Linked DNA regions of Homo sapiens: region 2 is linked to region 1. A link means that fine-mapping ties the variant in region 1 to the expression of a gene that starts in the linked region. Tissue or cell type: whole blood. Region 1 holds a variant in brackets; the other region holds the start of a gene. All regions are shown on one strand. Distances are from middle to middle.

Evidence for each region. PIP is the estimated chance that this variant, and not a neighbour inherited with it, causes the effect.
Region 2: it holds the start of SERPINB1, and the variant in region 1 is fine-mapped to the expression of SERPINB1 in whole blood (TOPMed, PIP 0.95).

What each region holds. Positions count from the first base shown.
Region 1 is chr6:2,788,251-2,799,137 of GRCh38, reverse strand. It overlaps LOC124901241 (a long non-coding RNA gene), which reads left to right. Exons shown (of 3, transcript XR_007059408.1): 3 at 7,652-7,947. Among named protein-coding and RNA genes, the nearest start is that of WRNIP1, 28 kb to the right of the region's middle. RefSeq lists silencers at 1,234-1,338, 7,609-7,903 and an enhancer at 7,609-7,903. The variant G/A (reference allele first, on the strand shown) is at 5,842.
Region 2 is chr6:2,837,462-2,848,348 of GRCh38, reverse strand. SERPINB1 (serpin family B member 1) reads left to right here and starts at 6,486. Exons shown (of 7, transcript NM_030666.4): 1 at 6,486-6,537; 2 at 7,755-7,930; 3 at 9,663-9,800; 4 at 10,350-10,467. The coding sequence starts at 7,763. RefSeq lists a silencer at 6,542-6,591.

The DNA.
Region 1 (10,887 bases):
TGCACTCCAGCCTGGGCGACAGAGTGAGACTCCATCTCAAAAAAAAGAAAAAAAAAAAAAAGAAAATCCAAATGCCCAAGTTCCCAATAAACCAAGGTACCCCAATGGGTATGAGGTTTCTGGGGCTGCGCTCCACCCACCCCGACAGCTACTGAACCCGTGGCCTCATGGGCCTCTGCACGGCTGGAACCCACCTGGCCCGGCTCCGCCCCCACACTAGCCCTGCTGTTCATTGGTCATAACTCCTCTTGGTTGCCAGTTATTGAAACCCAATTTAAACTGGATTAAGAGGAAACAAAAGAAGGGATTTTTGGAAGTTTCAAGCTACCACAGAAATGGCAGGGGTGTGGGGGGTGTCAGAAACACCTGTCACTAGGCCTGGCATGGGCCCTGGCTGTCTCCTCCTCTCGGCTGGGTTCTTCCCAGCCTTGTTTCCTCACACTGGCTTCTTCACGTAGCGGGAAACACATGTTCACATCTCTGAGCGTCATGACCAAAGAGTCAGGGCTTGCTCCTGTGTTCCCAGGGAAGAACTTAGACCAAGAGCCTGTCCTTGGACGGAGTGACTAGGGCCTGAGGAAGGGGCAGGAGAGGAGGCCACCTGGAGGGAGTGTTCCTCCCTGTGCTGGGCGGGGCAGCCTGGGCCTTGAGGAGTCCACAGCTCCCCTCACATCACACACTTGGAGGAAGAGTAAATGTCCCCGGAGGAAGAGTAAATGTCCCCGGAGAAAGGGGTTGCTGTCATGCGTACGCGAATCCTCCATGCCTGCGGTAGCCAAGCAAGCAGATCTCTGCAAATGTGTCTCCATCCACGGCCCAGGAGAGGGGCCACATCACCGGGCATGCAGCAGGAGCTATCTATTTAATATATTGCAACTCACTGCATGCAATGATTCCAATCAATAGGGGGCTTTCTGTGAATTTTGTTTAAAATAGTATTTATTTCAAAGTTATCACTACCTCACAAGTATTTTAGCAACTATTTATTTAAAAGTATCTTCTTGATGCAAAAAAAAAAAAAGACAAAGAAAAAGAAACTGTGAGCTTAAACATATTTGAATGGAGAGGAGGAATTCATTTGAAGTTAGTTTGATGGATTAGCTTGAAGTCACAGCAGAGGCTGATTTTAAAGTGACAGCAGCTCTCTCCCCATCTCCTCTCACAGCCTGCCCAGGGCAGCATGGAGGAAGGGGAGGAGTAGGAGCAGGGGAGGAGGAGGAGAAGGAGGAGGAGGAGGAAGAGGAGGAGGAGGAGGAGGAAGAGGAGGAGGAGGAGGAGGAGGAGGAGGAGATCTGCCTTGGGTGAGATCAGGCCAGGGCTGAACCTGTGAGATTCAAATTGGGGCTTCGTTGTTTGTGTACATTCTTGTGAAGTCATTTCTGGGACTTCGTCCCTCCCCACCTTGCTTGCTGTTGGCTGTCTCAAGGGATTTCAGGGACCTGGGAACTGTGAAGAATGTGCTGCTTGTGAACTTCACCTGTCACATGTTCTGGGAGGGGAGCAGGGAGGGAAGAACAGCTGCACAGTCCTGCCGAGGACACATTCATTCTCAGTTCTTGCCTAAGTTTCCAGGGACTACATCACTGAGGGCCACCCCCTTCTCTCCCACCCTTGCCACTGTAGGAAACTTCAGGTGTCTTGGTCCACCCAGCATTCAAACTCCTGGCTGGAAGGAGCTAGCGAAGGCCTGGGAAGCTGCAGGAAGGGATCTGGTGCTGAGCCTCCAGGCCACTGAGCCCAGAGTCACACCTGGCCAGCTTCCTCTCATTTCCTTCCTTCTGTGCTGAGGCCTCAGTTTCTCAATTCACCAAGACCACTTGCTGCCCCAAGGGGCTTCCCTTGTGTCCTTGGTCCTGCAGACAGAGCACAACCCTGGAGCTGCCCTTGCGGGCTCTACCATGTGTGGCTGTCCCACGCGGCTCTTCCCTACGCGAGGGCCCTAAATCCAGAAGGAATGGGTGGGCCCAGAGCAAAAGGTGTGATGGGATTTCCTCATAGACATCTGAATTGAGTAAGAGTCTTCTCAGTGGAGAGACATCCAGCCTTCAAGAGCTTTGGACATTTCCTTATGAAAGAGACTTGAAATTGAGGAACAGCAGGGAGATGAGAGAGGACTGGACTTGTTCTCTAGAGAGCAGCTTTTGGGTTGGTGACTGGAGGTGGGCACAGGGGAGGTGCAAGAGCAGCCCACCCCCTCCTCCTTCCTGCCCTTCAAAATGCCCAGTGCTGCCCTGCAAACGCTGGAACTGTGGGATGATCAGCCAGCCCTTGCAAGGCCTCTGCTTCCAGATAAAAGAGAAGGAGAGTCCCAGTGAGGCACTTGAGGAGAAAGAGAAGAGCCTGGGGAAGGTGATGTGCTGTTTTGAAATTATCTGACAGTTACTGAACCATGTGATCCATTTCCCTGACATTCTGACACAAAAGTCTTTGAGCATAACTTACAATATTGTTTCGTTTTTTTTTTTTTTTTTAGACGGAGTCTTGCTCTGTCGCCCAGGCTGGAGTGCAGTGGTGCAGTCTTGGCTCACTGCAAGCTCTGCCTCCTGGGTTCACGCCATTCTCCTGCCTCAGCCTCCCGAGTAGCTGGGACTACAGGCGCCCACCACCACGCCCGGCTAATTTTTTTGTATTTTTAGGAGAGATGGGGTTTCACCATATTAGCCAGGATGGTCTCGATCTCCTGACCTCGTGATCCACCCGCCTCGGCCTCCCAAAGTGCTGGGATTACAGGCGTGAGCCACGGCGCCCAGCCAATATTGTTTCTTAAAATGAAGGAGGCATAAAAAAATCTCTTGAGCTTTTGTTCACACAGATTCCTTAGCAATTCCAGCTGAGTTGGCCGAGCCTGGGCGTCGCGTTCTGCATTTCTCATGGGCTCAGGTTGCTGGCTGCTGGTCCGGGCACCGCACTCTGGGCAGCACTGGCTGAAAGCGTGGGGCTGGTGGTCCTGCGGGGTCGTAGATGTGTCACCCACCTGGAGGGCAGCTCGTACTCCTAGTTCAAGCCTGACTTGCGGAAAGTTTTGCAAAGATTTCATAAGCCTCGCTGTTGTGACACCCCGTCTGTTCTCTTTCCAGTTCTGTGTCACGGTGACAACCCACAGGTCAGAGGAAACTAGAAAAGAGGTTTCTGGTATGAACTGTCCTGAGGGCTCCTCTCCTCTGCTATTTCACGATTTCCGCACCATCACCGGGTTCAGCAGTATTCTTTGATGATCCTGAGTTCTCTAAATTTAGCTTCTCAATCAAGCCTGTTTCTGGTTACTGGAATGGGCAGATGGAGTGGGAAGACAGGCAGTAACAGACCCTTCTAAATCTACCAAAGGGGCCAAGACAACTCCTGCTTACAAAAGGCAGCACGTCCATCAAAATCTGTGGCCATCCAGGTCTGCTCTCTCCCAAGGAGGAAGGAGCCAAGGTTTCTCCAAAGAGGAAGAAAAGGAGACAGGGGGAGAGGAAGGCACAGGGCACACTGCTCACTTTCCCACTGGAGTTCATTCCATGCCCATTTGAATATCATGTGAGCTAATGAAACAATTCTGACTTCCATAGCATCTGGCTTCTGAAAACCGCTAATATTTCTTAATGCTTTCCCATGTAAACAGTCAAAATAATCGTGCCTTAATTTAAATAGCACTTGACAGTTGATAGTATATTTTTATCTGCATATCTTACTTGATTTTCATAAGAAACTTCCAGTGTAAAAGTGGCCCTGCCAAAAAATAAAAGTGAACCTAGAAGTCATTGTTATACCCACTTCCAAGCTGAGAAAATCGAGGCCTGAATGAGTGAAGTGACTTACCAGAGATTGAACAATGGCCTTGTCTCAAAAGCCAGTTTTCTCAACATGGAAGCTTGTTGGAAGGATGTAAAATATGTATTTAATGACTCATTAGCAAAATGGAGATTTTCCTTTAAGTAGTTCTTATGATACAGATAACAACTATGTTTTGTTGTTGTTGGTTTATTTATTTATTTATTTATTTATTTACTTACTTTTTTGAGATGGAGTCTCACTCTGTCGCCCAGGCTGGGGTGCAATGGCACAATCTTGGCTCACTGCAAGCTCCGCCTCCCAGGTTCAAGCAATTCTCCTGCCTCAACCTCCTGAGTAGCTGGGATTACAGGTGCACGCCACCATGGCTGGCTAATTTTCGTATTTTTAGTAGAGACAGGGTTTCACCATGTTGGTCAGGTTGGTCTCGAACTCCTGACCTCACGATCCACCCGCCTCAGCAACAACAATGTATTTTTAAACTGCATGAGTTTGTAGAGATTATTGTAATCTATCCTCCTTTAAGAGATAAGGAAACTGAGGCTTAGAGAGGCTGAAATACTATGATCCAGAAGTTGTCCAAATCTGTTTTATGATTTATGACCTTAAGCACGTTAATTATATTTTAAAATTCTACTTCATTAAAACATCATGGGAAGGTACAGCAACACGACATTTGCAATGAGGTTATTGCATAAACAATCATAAGGCAGAAGGGATGTGAATCCTGTTTTTAGTGCACTAGTAGGAAATTCATACCACATCCTAAGCTACTCCAGTCATTCCACTGTGCAAACCAGAGCATGAAAAATGATCTCGGCTCATGACTAATCCACTGCCCTGAGCCTGGGGACGTTCACACCTACACTATCTGTGACATGGAATTGTCTATTCTTGAAAAGCATCGTCTTCTGTAGCGGGGAAAGTCAGTTAAGCAATTACTTGCTGAAAAGCTACTAGGAGCCAAACATTGTGGAATGAACATGACTATGACTATGCTTGCCCTCAGAAGGCTTATAACCCACAGCCAAAAAGACAGAACCTATGCAGTGTGATGTGAGCAGAGGAAGGAGAGACTTAATGAAGTGGATGGTTAGGTGAAGACTTCACATTTTTTTTATAGATCATGGGGGCAGAATTTCAAAAAAATTAGAGAATGGAAGAAATATGGAATTCTAATTCAGATAGTTTCTGCTTCAAAGTTGGCTAGTCATACAGATGGCAGTTGAGTAACTTCATGCAGAGTAAAGAAATACCACACCCAGGACTTTGCAGGTTGCTCAAGCAGATGGCCACATGGACCCTGGCTTCCTCAGAGCCTACTGTGACTAGAGCACAACCAGTACAAGTGACAAGAGACCCGCCCCATGTGTGCACTTGCTACTCAAGCTTCTGACATTCACCATTCCCCACACTTGGGGAATCTCATACCAGAAAGTCTATTCTTGGCCCAACAGACTTTCTGTTCCACTGTACTTGTCTCAACTACCTGCAACAGTGAGGAGGCGATGAGACAGGTAGAGAATTTGCAGGCTACGGAGTGGAATTCGTATATTTTATTCCTCAGTAAGGAGCCAAATGAGTAAGAAGGCGTGTTTTCACCGGAAGCCACAAGCTAAAGCAAAATAGGCAAGAAGCATAAACGGACTTGCTCAAAAGCCTCTCTCTTTCCTCAGAGCCCAGCTAGCCCACGTGTGCCTTTGTGAGACAGAAAAAGACATCCTCTCCTCTGGATTTCTGCCTGCTCACTGTCGGCCCTCAGCCAGGCCCCCTGGGCCTTGCCCTGCCCACACAGCCACACAGCAGCCATGTTCCCCACCCATGCAGCAATTTCAAGTGTGGATGACAAACACCTGGAGAGAAGCAGCAGCTGGTGTCAGAAGGAATGACAGGGGAGGGGGACAAAGGAGGCAAGCCCAGGTGGCATGGAGACTCAGGACCTCCTTAAGGCCTCATAAGTCACTGAATGTGTTTAGAGCAAGGAAGAAAAGATAAATGACAGCTACAGGTAGAGAGGCAGGAGATGAGTCTGAAAAGAGCCTGTTTGCCACCAAAAACTTATTTCTA[G/A]GCTATTGATGGCAGGTCACATAGCACGGTGAAGTTGTTCTCAAAGTGTGGTCCGTGTGGACCAGCCCCGTTAGCACCACCTGAGAACTTATAGTTGGAAACACAAATTCTTAGGCCCCATTGAAGATGGACTGAATTAGAAATTCTGGGATTTTTAGCGAGTCCTCCAGGTGATTCTGATGCATGTAAGAACCTGGAGCCACTGGCAAGGTGGCCGGGCAGGGCCGGCTCTGGGGGTTTCCATCCTGCTGACTCTCAGGAAGTCACTTTGCCATCTTAAGTTGTGTGCGCCTTTTCTCCATGTAAAATAGACGTACTAACAGCACCGGCTTATATAGTCTTTTTGGAAATTGAGATCACATATGGAAAACATTTTGCATGGTGCCCAGCATATGGCAGGCAGGGAATACATGTTTGCAATTACTGCTGCCAGCCAAAATGAAGCAGCAAGTGTGCTTGGAAGACTGCAGGCCTCCGCAGTCCCCAAGTTCAGCCTGTCCCCTGAGCGAAGAAAATGAAAGAGATGCAGGCTGGCGTCCAGGGAGAGCCCAGAGGGAGAGAGCAGTGCCCGGTCCATAACCACCTAAGGCCCTGGAACACCACAATGGCTCAGAGCCCAGGTGAGCAATAGCACCTGGGGCTGCACAGCGCTGGGCTGGGAAGCTTAGCCTGAGGGCTCAGCGCAGGCTTTGAGAGGAAAGCGATGCTTGAACTGGGGTGGGGAGAATGAGTCATGGCAATACCCAGCATGTATGGACTGTGTGCCGGACATGACTTTGAGCAATGCCAGATTTGAATCATGTAATCTCCATTGTGATTAAGTAATATTTTGATACCCATTTTAAAGATGAGGGAAAAGAAAATAACCTTGACCAAGGTCACGGGGTGAGGTGGCTCAGATAGGATTTGAACCCGAGCAGACAGACTCCTGGACCCACGCACCTCACCAAGTGTGGTTGGCTAGCGAGCCGAAAGAACCCTGGAGGCAGGGTGCTGAAGGAGGGGAGAGTGGTGTGAGGCTCTCTGTTTCTCTTATTAAATCCAGTTCTAGGCCGGGCACGGTGGCTCATGCCTGTAATCCCAGCACTTTGGGAGGCTGAGGTGGGTGAATCACCTGAGGTCAGGAGTTCGAGACCAGCCTGACCAACATGGTGAAACCCTGTCTCTACTAAAAATACAAAAATGAGCTGGGCATGGTGGCAGGTGCCTGTAATTCCAGCTACTCGGGAGGCTGAGGCAGGAGAACTGCTTGAATCTGGGAGGCAGAGGTTGCAGTGAGCCGAGATTGCACCACTGCACTCTAGCCTGGGCGACAGAGTGAGACTCCATCTCAAAAATAAAATAAAATATAATAAATAAATCCAGCTACTAGGTGTCTGGTGTGTCCTACCCTCTGTGGATGGCACGGCTGGTGGGGTGCACCACCGGAAGGGTGCAGCTCCCTGGTGGTGGCTCCAACTCAACCATGAAAAGTCATACGCTAAGAGACTAATTCTGCATGTAAGAAATCATGTGAGGGGGTGAGAAACAGCAAGCTATAAACAGATGGTGTAGTCATACATACACACACACACACACACACACACACACACACTCATTGGAAAAAATTCCCAAAGGACATACACTAAAATGTTTACAGTGGTTATCACTGAGAAAAAATATTAAATGTTAAAGTTGATTTTTACTATCTTTTATCTGCTTTTTTTTTTTTTTGCATCTGCTCCTGTACCTATGTGCAATGATCATGTATTACTTTTGCAATCAGACAAATACATAAGCTCTACTTTAAAACTGTTTATTTATCTACCAGGTTAACGACAAATACTGAAACTCAGTCTTGGCCTGAACCTGGTGACCTGGAGCTGGTGGAAGGCCTGGTGAGAGACAGCTCAGACACTGGCTCACTCTTTCCTGGCTGAAGCCTGACTCCTGGTGGACAGAAACATCAGCGACAGACTTCTATTTTCAAACGTCTACATACACATCTTAGGGAAAGTTTATTTATCCCCTCATTTTGTCATTCAACAAATATGTACTGATCACATTCTACATGCCAAGCATGATGGGAATGTAAAAATAAATTTGAGATGACGTCTTTGAGGAAAACGGCTTCTCTCTACTTTCGTTCGCATTTTCTTGTGTTTCAATAGTAGGGTATAGTGTGGTAGTTTTCTTCATGTAAGTCCTACTCCTCAGTTACAATTCAGTTTCTTTCCAGGTTGCTACTGAGAATGGAATATTCTTCTTGGTGTCTTTTCTGATTACAGTAGTGGCCCGGAAGCTATGGATTTTCATGGGTTGTTTCCATGTGGCCACTTTACTGGACTGTTAGCTGTTCGGACTCTTCTTCTTGGCTCTCAAGGTATACAATCACACAGAAAGAATTTTGTTTCTCCTAAAATAGAGCAGTAGTAGTTCTCATTTCAGAGATCTGTGCACACTGGGTATTCTCCACCCTTCTCGCCTGGCTTTTTAACCAGGGAAACTTCTGGTTGGTCCTGCTAGTGGGAGGGACTGGCAGGAGATGAGGGCAAGAGAGAGAGGATTCAGACCATGCATTTCCTTCTCCTACCCCCAGGTTCCCTACTCAAGAGGTGCAGCAGCTGCTGAGTTCTTTGCCTCCACTCAGGGCCGCAGTTCCTGTCTGAAGGCTGCCGGCCACCTCCTGCTCTCCCAGGGCTCCCTGCCTGCTCCCACCCCTTGCCTCTCAGGCCTTGCCAGGGAATTGCTTCTCACCTTGTGTTGGTCCCCTGAACCTCCCCTATACCTCTCTAATACTTGTGATCCCTGATTAAAAGTTTCTCAGTGGCCTGAGGGGATCATCTGCATCCTCCCCGGAGCCTGACTGGCTTTAGAGCTTCAAAACATTTAGTTTTAAATGATTGGTTTTTATGAAGATTTGTTAACTCTATTAAAAATATTTACTTCTGTTTGGTTTCTGCTTAAGTTATAAATGCCTTTGTGGGCTCAAACTGCCTGGAACTGCATCTATGAATGTGTAGTAGTGCTTTCAAACTGTAGTCGCTACACAAAGGTTAATTCATCAAAAAGTAAGAGATCCATGGCATTTATATGAAAGTATAGGAAAATCATCCTTTCTAATATAACATCAGTATCAAAAGGCCGGTTCTCTCATTTGGAATTAATTGATAACATTGTCCAGGTTTGATGACTTGTATCTGGAAAAGATGAGTTAACATCCATTCTTGTTGTAACAATTGGAACAAATCTCTGCAAGTCACTATTCTTACTGTTCTTAAACTCAGGTTTGGCTGTTATGAGGGTGAACAAAACTACCAAATACACTTGGAACATAAGGAATAAATTGTGTTTGGTGGTTATGTTGCTTTTTCAGAATCAGTACATAACTTGTGATATTTATTTATTTACTTATTTATTATTATTTTTTAAGATGGAGTCTCACTCTGTCACCTAGCCTGGAGTGCAGTGGCGCGATCTCGGCTCACTGCAACCTCCACCTCCCAGGTTCAAGCGATTCTCCTGCCTCAGGCTCCTGAGTAGCTGAGATTACAGGTGTGCGCCACCACACCCAGCCAATTTTTATATACTTAATAGAAACGACGTTTCACCATGTTGCCCAGGCTGGTCTCAAACTCCTGATCTCAAGTGACCTGCCCGCCTCAGCCTCCCAAAGTGCTGGGATTACAGGTGTGTGCCACCGCACCTGGCCCATAACTTGTGGTATTTAAATGGCATCATATGGAAGGGCTGCCCCCAATTGTTGAATACTACTGTAAACAGGCAAGAGATGTGCCTCCCTCACCAGAAACTCTGACTCACTGCATTAGTTTTTCCCAGGGTTTAGCTAATGGTGTAAACTTTCAGTCATGCTCACTGTGGTATGTGAGAGGTATTCATTCAGGCAGTGAATATCTGCTTTAAAAACTTTAAAAATCTGCTTTCACAAAATAAGATTCTTTGAAACCAAAAAACAAGCATTTGCAAACTTTCAAGCTTGATTTTACAGTTACAGAAAGTTGGCTGCTCAGTGCCCCGCTGCTGGATACAGCAGAAAGTGTGCTGCAGGCTCTCCCCAGCACCGCGTGCTCCAGCACAGGCCCCGTGTCCGCGTTACACACTGTGTTCAGGGCCGCATGTCTAATAGGATGATGGATCTCAAAAAGCCCTCATCACTTATCTGTTGGCTTGAGTTACGATGCTCACATATCGTCCTGGCATAAATTCACACCTGTGCCTTGACCACCACTGGGATCCGTCCCTTGGGAAACTGGCAGGAGTGAGTCATGACGGAAAAGCTTGTTGAGGAGTTAATGTCACCTCCGGTTACATCACAAGCACACTTCTTATTTGGAAGTAACTCCATCCCCCAACAAAAATTTTTTTTTTTTTTTTTTTTTTGAGACGGAGTCTCGCTCTGTCGCCCAGGCTGGACTGCGGACTGCAGTGGCGCAATCTCGGCTCACTGCAAGCTCCGCTTCCCGGGTTCACGCCATTCTCCTGCCTTAGCCTCCCGAGTAGCTGGGACTACAGGCGCCCGCCACCGCGCCCGGCTAATTTTTTGTATTTTTAGTAGAGACGGGGTTTCACCTTGTTAGCCAGGATGGTCTCGATCTCCTGACCTCGTGATCCACCTGCCTTGGCCTCCCAAAGTGCTGGGATTACAGGTGTGAGCCACCACGCCTGGCCTGTAAAAATGTTATTTTTAAAGAATCAAAATTGGCCAGGCACAGTGGCTCATGCCTGTAATCCTAGCATTTTGGGAGGCTGAGGCAGGCGGATTGCCTGAGCTCAGGAGTTCGAGACCAGCCTGGGCAAGACAGTAAAACCTTGTCTTTACTAAAATACAAAAAAATTAGCCAGGCGTGGTGGTGTGTGCCTGTAGTCCCAGCTACTCAGGAGGCTGAGGCAGGAGAAGTGCTTGAACCCAGGAGGTGGAGGTTGCAGTGAGCCGAGATCGCGTCATTGCACTCCAGCCTGGGCAAAAGAGCACAAGCCTCCGTCTCCAAAAAAAAAAAAAAAAAAATCAAGAAAAAACTGGGCTATACATTTCTTAATGAAATACTA
Region 2 (10,887 bases), 49 kb before region 1:
CTACTAAAATAGGCCTCCCACTTCTGGCATTGGCAGAATTGATTTTTTTTAAATCTAAATTTAAAGCATCTATATCGTCATTATTACGTTTCTTCATACTGGTCTGGGATGACATTTCACCTAGTGGAGTTCTTTCAAATCTTGATTCTGTCATCCACGGCAATAGGCTTGTGCTATTCGAAAATTTCTTCTTTGTGGCCCTCTATGCTTCCATCAAAGTTGTTTGTGAGAGGGTGAGACAGGACCACACACAGGCAGAGCCCTGTGGCATACCTTGAGAGACCTCCCTCCCAAGTGAGCCACAGTTTTAGGTCATTTCTTTTTTTCTTTTTTTTTGAGACAGAGTCTCACTCTGTTGCCCAGGCTGGAGTGCAGTGGCGCAGTCTCAGCTCTCTACAAACTCCACCTCCCGGGTTCCAGCGATTCTCCTGCCTCAGCCTCCCAACTAGCTGGGATTACAAGCATATGCCACCACGCCCAGGTAATTTTTGTATTTTTAGTAGAGACAGGGTTTTACCATGTTGGCCAGCCTGGTCTCGAACTCCTGACCTCAGATGAACCACCCGCCTCGCCATCCCAAAGTGCTGGGATTACAGGCATGAGCCACCGCACCTGGCAATTTTAGGTCATTTTTATAGCCAGCTAACAATCCTTTTTTTTTTTTTTTTGAGACGGAGTTTCATTCTTGTTGCCTAGGCTGGAGTGCAGTGGCGCGATCTTGGCTCACCGCAACCTCCGCCTCCCGGGTTCAAGCGACTCTCGAGCCTCAGCCTCCTGAGTAGCTGGGATTACAGGTGCACACCACCACGCCTGGCTAATTTTGTATTTTTAGTAGAGACGGGGTTTCTCCATGTTGGCCAGGCTGGTCTCGAACTCCTGACCTCAGGTGATCCACCCGCCTCAGCCTCCCAAAGTGTTGGGATTATAGGCGTGGGCCACCGTGCCCGGCCAATCCTTTATTACAATATAAGCTTACTCTTGTTTATCTTGTCCTCAGAGTAATAATCGGAGGCTTCGGTGAACGCCTCATTCTTCGTTCTGAATTCCCAGGCAAACTTTTTTGCACCATGATTATGCCATGCAGATCGTTTCTGTCATGTACTTTGCTTCCTGTATCTTGCTGTTTATACTGGGACCTGAATTCCTCTTGTTGGGGCTCCATTTTCATTCAAATTATAGTTATTCTATCCATGCAGTTTAGAGAGCTTTTTATTCTCCTTATCATTCATCAAGAAACTGAACTGAGCAATGTTGTATCATCTGTCCACATGGCTTGGTTTGTTCTGAGCTATAATCTTCATTCACTTATTCAGCAAAATTTCCTAAACAACTACTATATGCCAGGTGTTTTAGATACTGGGGACGCAGCAGTGAACAACTGGGTCAAAGCCTTATTCTCCTGATGTTATGTTCTATTGAAGGAGATAGGCAACCAGTTTCTGATGGTGACTGAGGCTACAAAGCAAACAGAAAGTAACTCGGGATGAGAACAGAAGCCAGGGAAGGTCTCAGGGAAGAGGTGGCATTGAGCCGAGACCAGAATTAGAAGAAGGGGTGAGTCATCTAGAAAGAGGCAATATCAGGGACAAAGACCTGAAAGAAAATGAGCCTTCTAAGGTGAGACACTGAAAGGAAGCTGGTGAAATGAGGGGGAAAGAAGGATGCGAGGTCAGAGGAACTCCCCAGTGGACTGCTTACATGGATATTTGCAAGAGAAAATTAAATTATAGACATTCTAGGTACCCCAGTGAGGAGGACCAAGCTGGACTGAAAAGGAGAAATTACGTGATGTCCTGGCATTTATGTCTCAGCGGAAGCCAGTGATTTGTATTTTATAAATGATGGAATTCTGCCCTCTGGAGGATGAAGCTGTGTTACACAGCTGAAATTTTAATGCTAGGTTTCTTCCATTATTTGGCAGAAAATGAAAGGACTAAAAGAAACCCTGGCCAGGCGCGGTGGCTTGCTTGTAATCCCAGCACTTTGGGAGGCTGAGGCGGGCAGATTGCTTGAGGTCAGGAGTTCGAGACCAGCTTGGCCAACATCGTGAAACCCTGTCTCTACTAAAAATACAAAAAATTAGCTGGGCATGGTGATGCACACCTGTAGTCCTAACTACTCAGGAGGCTGAGGCAGGAGAATCGCTTGAACCTGGGAGGCGGAGGTTGCAGTGAGCAGAGTCAAGATCGTGCCACTGCACTCCAGTCTGGGTAACACAAAAAGACTCCGTCTCAAAAAGAAAAAAAAAAAGAAAAGAAAAGAAAAAAGAAGAAACCCTGAGAGATTATTTTATCTGTTTCTCTCATTTCAATCACGTAAGCTGCCTAAGATAGGAAAATGTAAATGATTTTAGACTTTCCTGGAAGCGTCTTGTTATCTGCAACCACTGTCCAGGGGCCAAAATTATTCACTGTCATGAAATTAGTCTCACCCAAAATTCTCAGACTATTATAAGAAAACATTATCTGTAAAATGATTTTGTGTTATTTTTCTAGTTGTGTTTATAAGTTACAAATTAGTTTTTTGGTGTTTTTTGTTTTTTATTTTTGAGACAGGTTCTCACTTTGTCACTCAGGTTGGAGTGCAGTGGCGCGATCATAGCTCACTGCAGCCTCATGCAACTCCTGGGTTCAAGTGATCCTCTCACCTCAACCTCCCAAGTAGCTGGGACCACAGGTGTGTACCACCACACCCAGCTAATTTTTAAAGTTTTTTAGAGATAGGGTCTCCCTATGTTGCCCAGGCTCAAAAAATTATTTATTAAAAACAAATGTAATAATTATTTTCATATTTCTCCTTTGCTATACTAAATACAGGCTATGGCACACAAAAATTGCTTTTTTTGAGTTTAAAATATTTCCAGTTGCTGAACTGCTAGTGGATTACTATACATTTTATCTTTTGAGGATAAAATAAAATATATTACCTAAAATAAATCACCTAAAATAAATTACCTAAAAGAAAATATATTATTTTATTTTACCTAAATAAAATAATAAAATAAAATAAAATATATTAGTACCTAAAATAAAATATATTACCCAGCGAGCACAACATGGAAATAATTTACCCACAAGAATTATATTTAACATATTTACAAAACGCTATTGTGAGACTTTTAATTTCACCATGCTGCAAGTTTATTAAAAGTGTCACAATTCACTTAATAGCAGTTTCTTAAACTGAACAAGAAAACAAGCTAATTCAAAATGACTTGAAGAGTGAAGAAAAAAATTCTCAAGATGCTTCTGAGAGTTCTGGGTGATCAGTAGCAGCTCGTTTGAAGAGCCAGAAAAAGTCTAAGTTCTACTTTCAGGAGCTGGAGGCAGGAGGAATAATTCAGGAATAATTCAAGGTGGAGGAGAATAAGGAAAAACGCTTAGGAGACTGACACTTCTCCATATTATTGTTGGATGAGATGGGCTAGGAAGACTCGGGGGCAGTAATGTGGCCGTGTCCACACATTTCTCCTAGACAAGAGGGATAAGAACAAGGCCGGCTTCTCAAGAAGAGCCCCTGTCTTAGTCTTTTCCTGCTGCTTTATCAAAACATCTTGTAAACACTAGACACCTATTTCTTACAGTTCTGGAGGCTGGGAAGTCCAAGGCTGGGAAGTTCGAGATCTGCAGGTGCAGACTCAGTGTCTGATGAGGGCATTTTCTTGCGGTGTTCTCATTTGGTGGGAAAGGCAGAAGGGACAAATGCTGTGTCCTCACCTGACAGAACAGATGTTTTATGGGCTGAATGTGTCTCCCCAAAATTCATATGTTGAAACTTTATCACCAATGTGATAGTATTAAGAGGTAGAGCCTTAAGAAGTGCTTAAGTCATGAGGGCAGAACCGTCATGGGTGGGATTTGGGCCCTTGAGGGAGTGCGTTCATCCCTTTCCATCCCTCCCACCGCCACGTGAAGATACAGTATATTTCCCCCTTGGATGCAGCAACAAGGTGCCATTTTGGAAGCAGAGAGCAGCCCACACCAGGCACCAAATATGTGGATGCCTTATTCTTGGACTTCCCAGCCTCCAGAACTGTGAGCAATACATTTCTGTTTTTAATAAATTGCCCAATCACAGGTATTTATAGCAGCACAAATGGACTATGACAGAAATTGATACTGAGAATGGGATGTTGCTATAACTAATACCTAAATATGTGGAAACAGCTTTGAAACTGAGTAATGGGTAGAGGCTGGAAGAATTTGGAGATGCATGCTGGAAAAAGCCTGTATAGACATAAACAGAGCTTTAAGGGAAATTAAGGGTGAGGGCTCAGAAGACAAGGAGAGCTGTAGGGAGAGCCTAAATCATCTTAGAGATTAATTAAGTGGTCTGGTCTTGATCAGAATGCGGTTAGAAGTATAGATGGTAAAGACACTTTTGATGAGATCTTAAAAGGAAACTGGAGGAAAGGTCATCCTTGTTACACAGTGGCAATGAACTTGGCTGAATTGTGTCTATGTCCTAGTGTTTTCTGAATGGCAGAACTTAAAGGCAATAAACTAGGATATTTGATGGAAGAAATCTCTGAGCAAAGCGTTGAGAGTGCAGCATGGCTTCTCTTGACTGCTTGTAGTAAAATGTGAGCAGAGAGAATGAATTAAAAACGAAGTTTATAATCAAGAGGGAAGCAGAGCTTAAAGTTTTGGAAAATTCTCAGCCTGGCCATGTAAAGAATGAAAAGGCATGTTTGGGAGGGAACACCAAGAGTGCTGCCAGGTTCACATTTGATAATGAGATGAGTATGTGTAGAAGGAAGCCAGATGCTATTTATCAAGACAATGGAAGAATGAACCCAAAGGCATTTCTGAGGTTACTGGTTCTGGATTCTCATCCCTGTCCCAGAGTGCCAGGACCCTGAGGGCAGAATAGTTTTAAGGGAGGACTCAGGACACCATGGAACCTTGGGGCTTGCTGCCTAGGGCTGCCTCAAGTCTCTGCCCCCCCACCCCCCACATTCTGGTGCAGCACTCTTTGGCCACCATCCCACGTGTGGCTTATGCAGGCCCTTGTCAGGCCACCCTTCCTGTAAGCCTTGGCAGAGTCCACGTGATGCTAACTCTGCAGGTGCACAGAGTGCATGAACTGTGGAGACACAGCCACCTCCACCTAGATTTTGAAGGATGTGTTGGGGACCCTGGGGGCCCAGTCTGAGAATTGTCACTGAGGTGAGGCTGCTGCAGAAAACCCTCACTAGGGCAATGTTTAGTGGAGCAGTGGGATTGGGGCCACTGCAGAGAGCCCCAAATAGAGTAATATCTAGTGGAGCTGTGGGAACAGGGCTGTCCCTGAGAACCCAGAACTGTCCAGCCACCAGCATGCAAGTCTATCCTGGGAGAGCCTAGACCTCAACCTGTGAGAGCTGCTGCATGGGTTGCACCTGGCAAATCCATGGGAGTGGATCCCCTGGACACTAGGGGACCCAGTCTCCACCCCCCTGTGCTCGGAATGGGGGACACAGCATCAAAGAAGATTATTCTGAAGCCCCAAGATTTAATGCTGTTTGCCTTGTTGGGTTTGGACTTACTTGGGACCAGATACTCCTTTCTTCTTGCCTGCTTCTCCCTTTGGGAATGGGAATGTACGTCCTATGCCTGTCTCATCACTGTATTTTGAAGGCCTGTAACCTATTTGATTTCACGGGCTCATAGCTGGAGGGGAATTTCACTTAGGATGAATTGTACTTTGAATCTTATGCCTTTCTAATTTAGAAGATATTTAGGTGAGACTTTGGACTTACATTTTAAAGTTGATACTGGAACTTTGGAGGCCACTGGGATACAATGCATGCATTTTGCATGTGAGAGGGGTATGAATTTGGAGGGCAGGGGCAGAATGCTATGCTTTGAATGTCTGTGTTCCCTGCAAAATTCATGCTGAAACAATCCTCAATGCAATACTAACAGGTGGTGCCTTTAGGAGGTGACTGGATTATGAGGGCACCTTCCTCATGAATGGGATTGGCCCCTTATACGAGAGACTTCACATGAGATTTGGCCCCTTTTGCCCTTCCACTTTCCACCATTGAGGACGCAGCAGCAAGCTGTCATCTTGGAAACAGAGAGCAGGTGTTTGGAACTGGTTCTGTTTCATCTGATTCTGGGGGCCCCTCTTTTTCCCTGTGCAAGATCCCCAAATTTGCTTCCTTCTCTCAAAGAAAGCTCCCAATATAGATGGGACTCAAAGGGAGTCATTTGCCCTCTAAGAGGTGTCACAATATGTCGTCTCAGTCATTCACACCTTAGTAAGAAAAAGCTTTTCAGGTCCTTGCCAGAGATTCGGGGAAAGGCTTTGAACTGAGAAAGAAGCCGCGCCCCTGAGGAGGGCGCTGCCCGGAAGCCACGCTCACTTCTGCTTGCACTTAGGCGACCTCGGGAGCTCGGACTCCTACGCAGTCACCGGGAAGGGCCGCCGCCCCGCCCGCGGCTGCTGGCCCGGGTGACGCTTCCGCCTGCTATAAGAGCAGCGGCCCTCGGTGCCTCCTTCCTGACCTCGCACCCAGCTCGGAGCCCGGAGCGTGCCTCGGCGGCCTGTCGGGTAAGGCCGGGCCTCGGAGCGGTGGCGCGGGGGCGGGCGCGGGGAGAGGCCAGGCTCCCTCGCTCAGCTTCCAGCCCGGCACCCCCCACCCCCCAGGCTCAGGCCCCTCAGACCCGCAGCTCCCTGCGCTCGCCCTCCCCGCCAGCTTCGCGCCCCCATCCCTTCCGGGCGCCCCGACGGAGACAGACGACCTCTGATCCCCCGCCCCCGCCTGGGTACAGGCCGGGCCAGCCCGCGAGGGAGGGAGGGAGGGAGGACGACAGATGCAGGCGGAAGGCAAGACTGAAACCTGAGATCAGAATGTTGTCCCTTCTCCCTGAATTCCCTTCCTCCCAGAGCTGTTTGTGACGGTTTCCAGGCAGCCCAGGGCCAGGCCGCGGCTCCTATCTGCAGCTGCAGGGAGAGAGAGGAGGAACCCCGTGCGATTCTAGAGACGATTTCACAACAAGGAGAAATCAGCTTTGTGCTTACATGCCGAGCAGCCAGCACGGTTCTTCTTTGCCTGTCCTCGGGGGAAATCAGGGCTCTGAGAGTGGAGATCGAGATGGGCTAGTGGGTGGCGGATGGGACGCTGCACGGCCAGACCCTGGACTGTGGTGGGTTTCCAAACTGGCACATCCTACACCGGCTCTGAGACTGTGGGCACTGGACCTCATACCTTTTGAACCTCAAAAATAAGGAAGAATTATATTATTATAATAATTACAGTGATACCTTTGCTGGAGTTTTAATGCATAGTAGGTAGCTGAGTCTCTGATAGAAGGCTCTTAGTTCAGGTGAAGGTAGGCAATGGATTCATTGCCCAATGAATCAGAGACTTGAATCAAAGGCTCAGAAGCACGTGCGCTCCCACACATAGGTTGGGAAGACCCAGGGCTGGGTGGGCCCTCCCACCCCACTAAAGCTGGGGTAGCTGGGGCCTGCCTTACCCCCGCCCCACCCCCAGACTCACCTGTCTGCAAGGTCAGAGCCCTTTAGGGCACCCTGGGTGCCCTAAAATCCCCTATAACTGCTGAGTCCTTGGCCAGAATGGTCCCACATTTGTGGGCCTGGGAAAGTGTTCTTGCCCTGCTGGAATAAAAAAGCGGGGAGAAAGTACAAGATCCAGGATGCCTCAGGGCGGTTGGCAGAAATTGAGGAAGCTTCTGGAGAAATAGTGCTGCCTAATCTGCTGGCGTGGGCAGTGGGCACCATGAGGACCCTGTTCTGTGTTGCAGTTTTCACCATGGAGCAGCTGAGCTCAGCAAACACCCGCTTCGCCTTGGACCTGTTCCTGGCGTTGAGTGAGAACAATCCGGCTGGAAACATCTTCATCTCTCCCTTCAGCATTTCATCTGCTATGGCCATGGTTTTTCTGGGGACCAGAGGTAACACGGCAGCACAGCTGTCCAAGGTCAGCAGAAACAAAAAAAAGGGTCTGCTTTCCTCCCATCTCCCTACGAATGGACAGTCTGCATGGAAAGGTTGTGCCTTTGAGCTCTTACCTTGTGTTTTCAGAACTGTATTTTTATGAGATCAGACTTTCAGAAAAGTCACACTTGTATGCAGGCTTCCATTCATCATCAGGTTTTTCCTAAGTACCTACCACGTACCAGGAACTGTTTTTCGTATTGCTGAGGAGACAGCAGTGAGCAAAGCTGACAAAAATCCCTGCAGGGCGAGGCTTCTGTTCCAGTGGATGAATCTGACAGCTTTCCTGAAAGGCATACTACATCCTCCTGAGCTAGCATCTTCCAGTTTTTGCTTTGCATATGATGATATGCAACTCATAAATATTGCCTGTTATATAACACTACTTTCAAGCATAATGAGAGGAATAAGACATAGGGAATGCATTATAGTGGAGATAGTGGCATTGCTTTTTTGCAAGGAAAAGAGAAAAAGTGACCCTGTGGTTCTGTAGTCCCAGGGTGCTGCGCATGGCTCAGTGGGCTGTGGCATAGCACGCCCTGCAGGGGAGGTGAGGGGGAGACCCGCAGCTTCAGGGGCGGGACCCAGCCCTTGGCGATGTGACAGGTCACTCTCATGCCCAGCCTTCCTTCTTGTCCATAATGGACATGGAGAGGACTTCTGTGCTTGGTACTCTTTAATTCTGAGAAGAGAACTCTAGCTCTCTCTCTCTAAGCTCAGCAGAAAGGAGTGGTAAAAGTGGAGGCTCTTCTAACATACCTGCCGCAAATTACACTGCACCTGTTCCTTGGCAAGGTGCAGCCTGGGATTCAAGTTCAAGGGGCTGCGAAACTTCTATTACTCATCACTTTAGATATGAAAGCATTTTAAATGTTTTTTTTAAATCCATTAAAAAAAAAAAACCTCTGTTACTAATTGTTAGTTGCTTCTTGCAGGGTTATATCAGTTCCTAGCTTGAGGTTTTCCAGGGACTTTAAAACCTCAGCAAAGAATAGTTTTAAGGACTCCTCCCCCATTTCCATTAAAGCAGATGGAGCATAGGCACAGTGCAAACATTCCATATCTCGGTGAGTAATGTGGACTTCGTACCCTATGCAATTTTGTTCTTTGTGTCTTAATCATAAAGGAACCAGCCTAGGTCTCATAAAACCACAAAGGGCCTCTTGATTTGTAACTGATACATGGGGAATTAAACTTTTGCCAGAATGTTAAGTTTAAGGAAGTTATTTTAAAATAAGTGAGTTACTGATGTTAATAGGGTAATAAAATTTTAAAAGCTTCAGTCTGTACTATCTTTGTGGTTCTGAATAGAGGATGAATCCTATTTTTACTGCTTATTTCTGAGAACTTTCAGTAAAATTATATTTGATACAGAATATAAATATGAACATACCATTTATTATTTTCTTTGGAAAAGGCAGACTTATATATAAATATTTAGTATCTTAACCACCCACATTTGTGGAACTGCAAGTGTAACAAAGAGTGATGTAAAAGCAATGTGTAAAGTTGTAAACATTCTGTCTCACGAAGCCATAAATTTTGGATTTCCTATTGTTTGTTCTGCAATGACAAATTAATAAAGTATTGGGTTTGGGATCATCAATAATTAGTAATAAAAACACATTAATTTAATGTGATAGAAGGAAACACCAAGGAATCACTTTATAGTTTCAAAATAAATGGTTGTAGAAAGAAGATTTTCTTTATTTTAGACTTTCCATTTCAACACGGTTGAAGAGGTTCATTCAAGATTCCAGAGTCTGAATGCTGATATCAACAAACGTGGAGCGTCTTATATTCTGAAACTTGCTAATAGATTATATGGAGAGAAAACTTACAATTTCCTTCCTGTAAGTACTTTGCCCTTCACATTCTAAAACCCCACTAGACAGTGCAGATATTTTCCAGCACAATCAAGTCATGGAGGTCAGTTTTAATATTTGTAAACTTTCAGAAAAACAATACAGAAGGCAAACATGGCAAAAACAATATGGAAGGCAAACACGACAGAATGCAAACTTTAATTGACATGGTGATTTTGTGTTACAGTCTTTTTAGTGAAAAGATAGCTCTTGGAGGTTTTACTGAAGCAAGAGTACAATCAGTGTTTGTGAAATCTTAGTCAAAGTTCAGAAAAGAGTGGTAATTTCTATATAACAACAACAGTATAAGGGTTAGGCTTACCACTACTGGAATGCACAGTTAAAAGTGGCTAAGATCGTAAATTTAATGTTAAATGATTTTTACTACTATAAGAAAAACTATAAGAGTTAGAAATTTTGTGTTACATGGAATTGTAGCCTTTTAGGACAATTTCTGTTGCTTTTTGGGATTTTAGAAAACAATTTCTATATGTAGTAGGAGTTATATATATATTTCCTTTTCCTTTTTTTTAATAGGAGTTCTTGGTTTCGACTCAGAAAACATATGGTGCTGACCTGGCCAGTGTGGATTTTCAGCATGCCTCTGAAGATGCAAGGAAGACCATAAACCAGTGGGTCAAAGGACAGACAGAAGGTGAGAGCCTGGGCAGAATGGAATCATTATGCGCTGGTCATGTCATTCGTTTCCTCAGTCCGCCTTCCCTACCTGCAGTTATTCCCTCCCCAGCTCCCACAGTCCTGGCGCACATCGTGGTTACAGTCAGAGGACGCTGCCGGTGCGTGAAGTCTGCACTGCACGTTGCTGGACAGCTCTCACATGTTCGAAGTTCACCAGAGTGGAAACTTAAACATGATTTAACTCAAGCAGCTAAATCCTTTTTTCTCATCAGCTCCCCAAAACTTTTAAAGTTGCATTTCAAAGTTAAAACCAACATTGGCAGGCGCGGTGGCTCATGCCTGTAATCCCAGCACTTTGGGAGCCCAAGGCGGGCGGATCATTTGAGGTCAGGAGTTCAAGACCAGCTTGGCCAACATGATGAAACCCTGTCTCTAC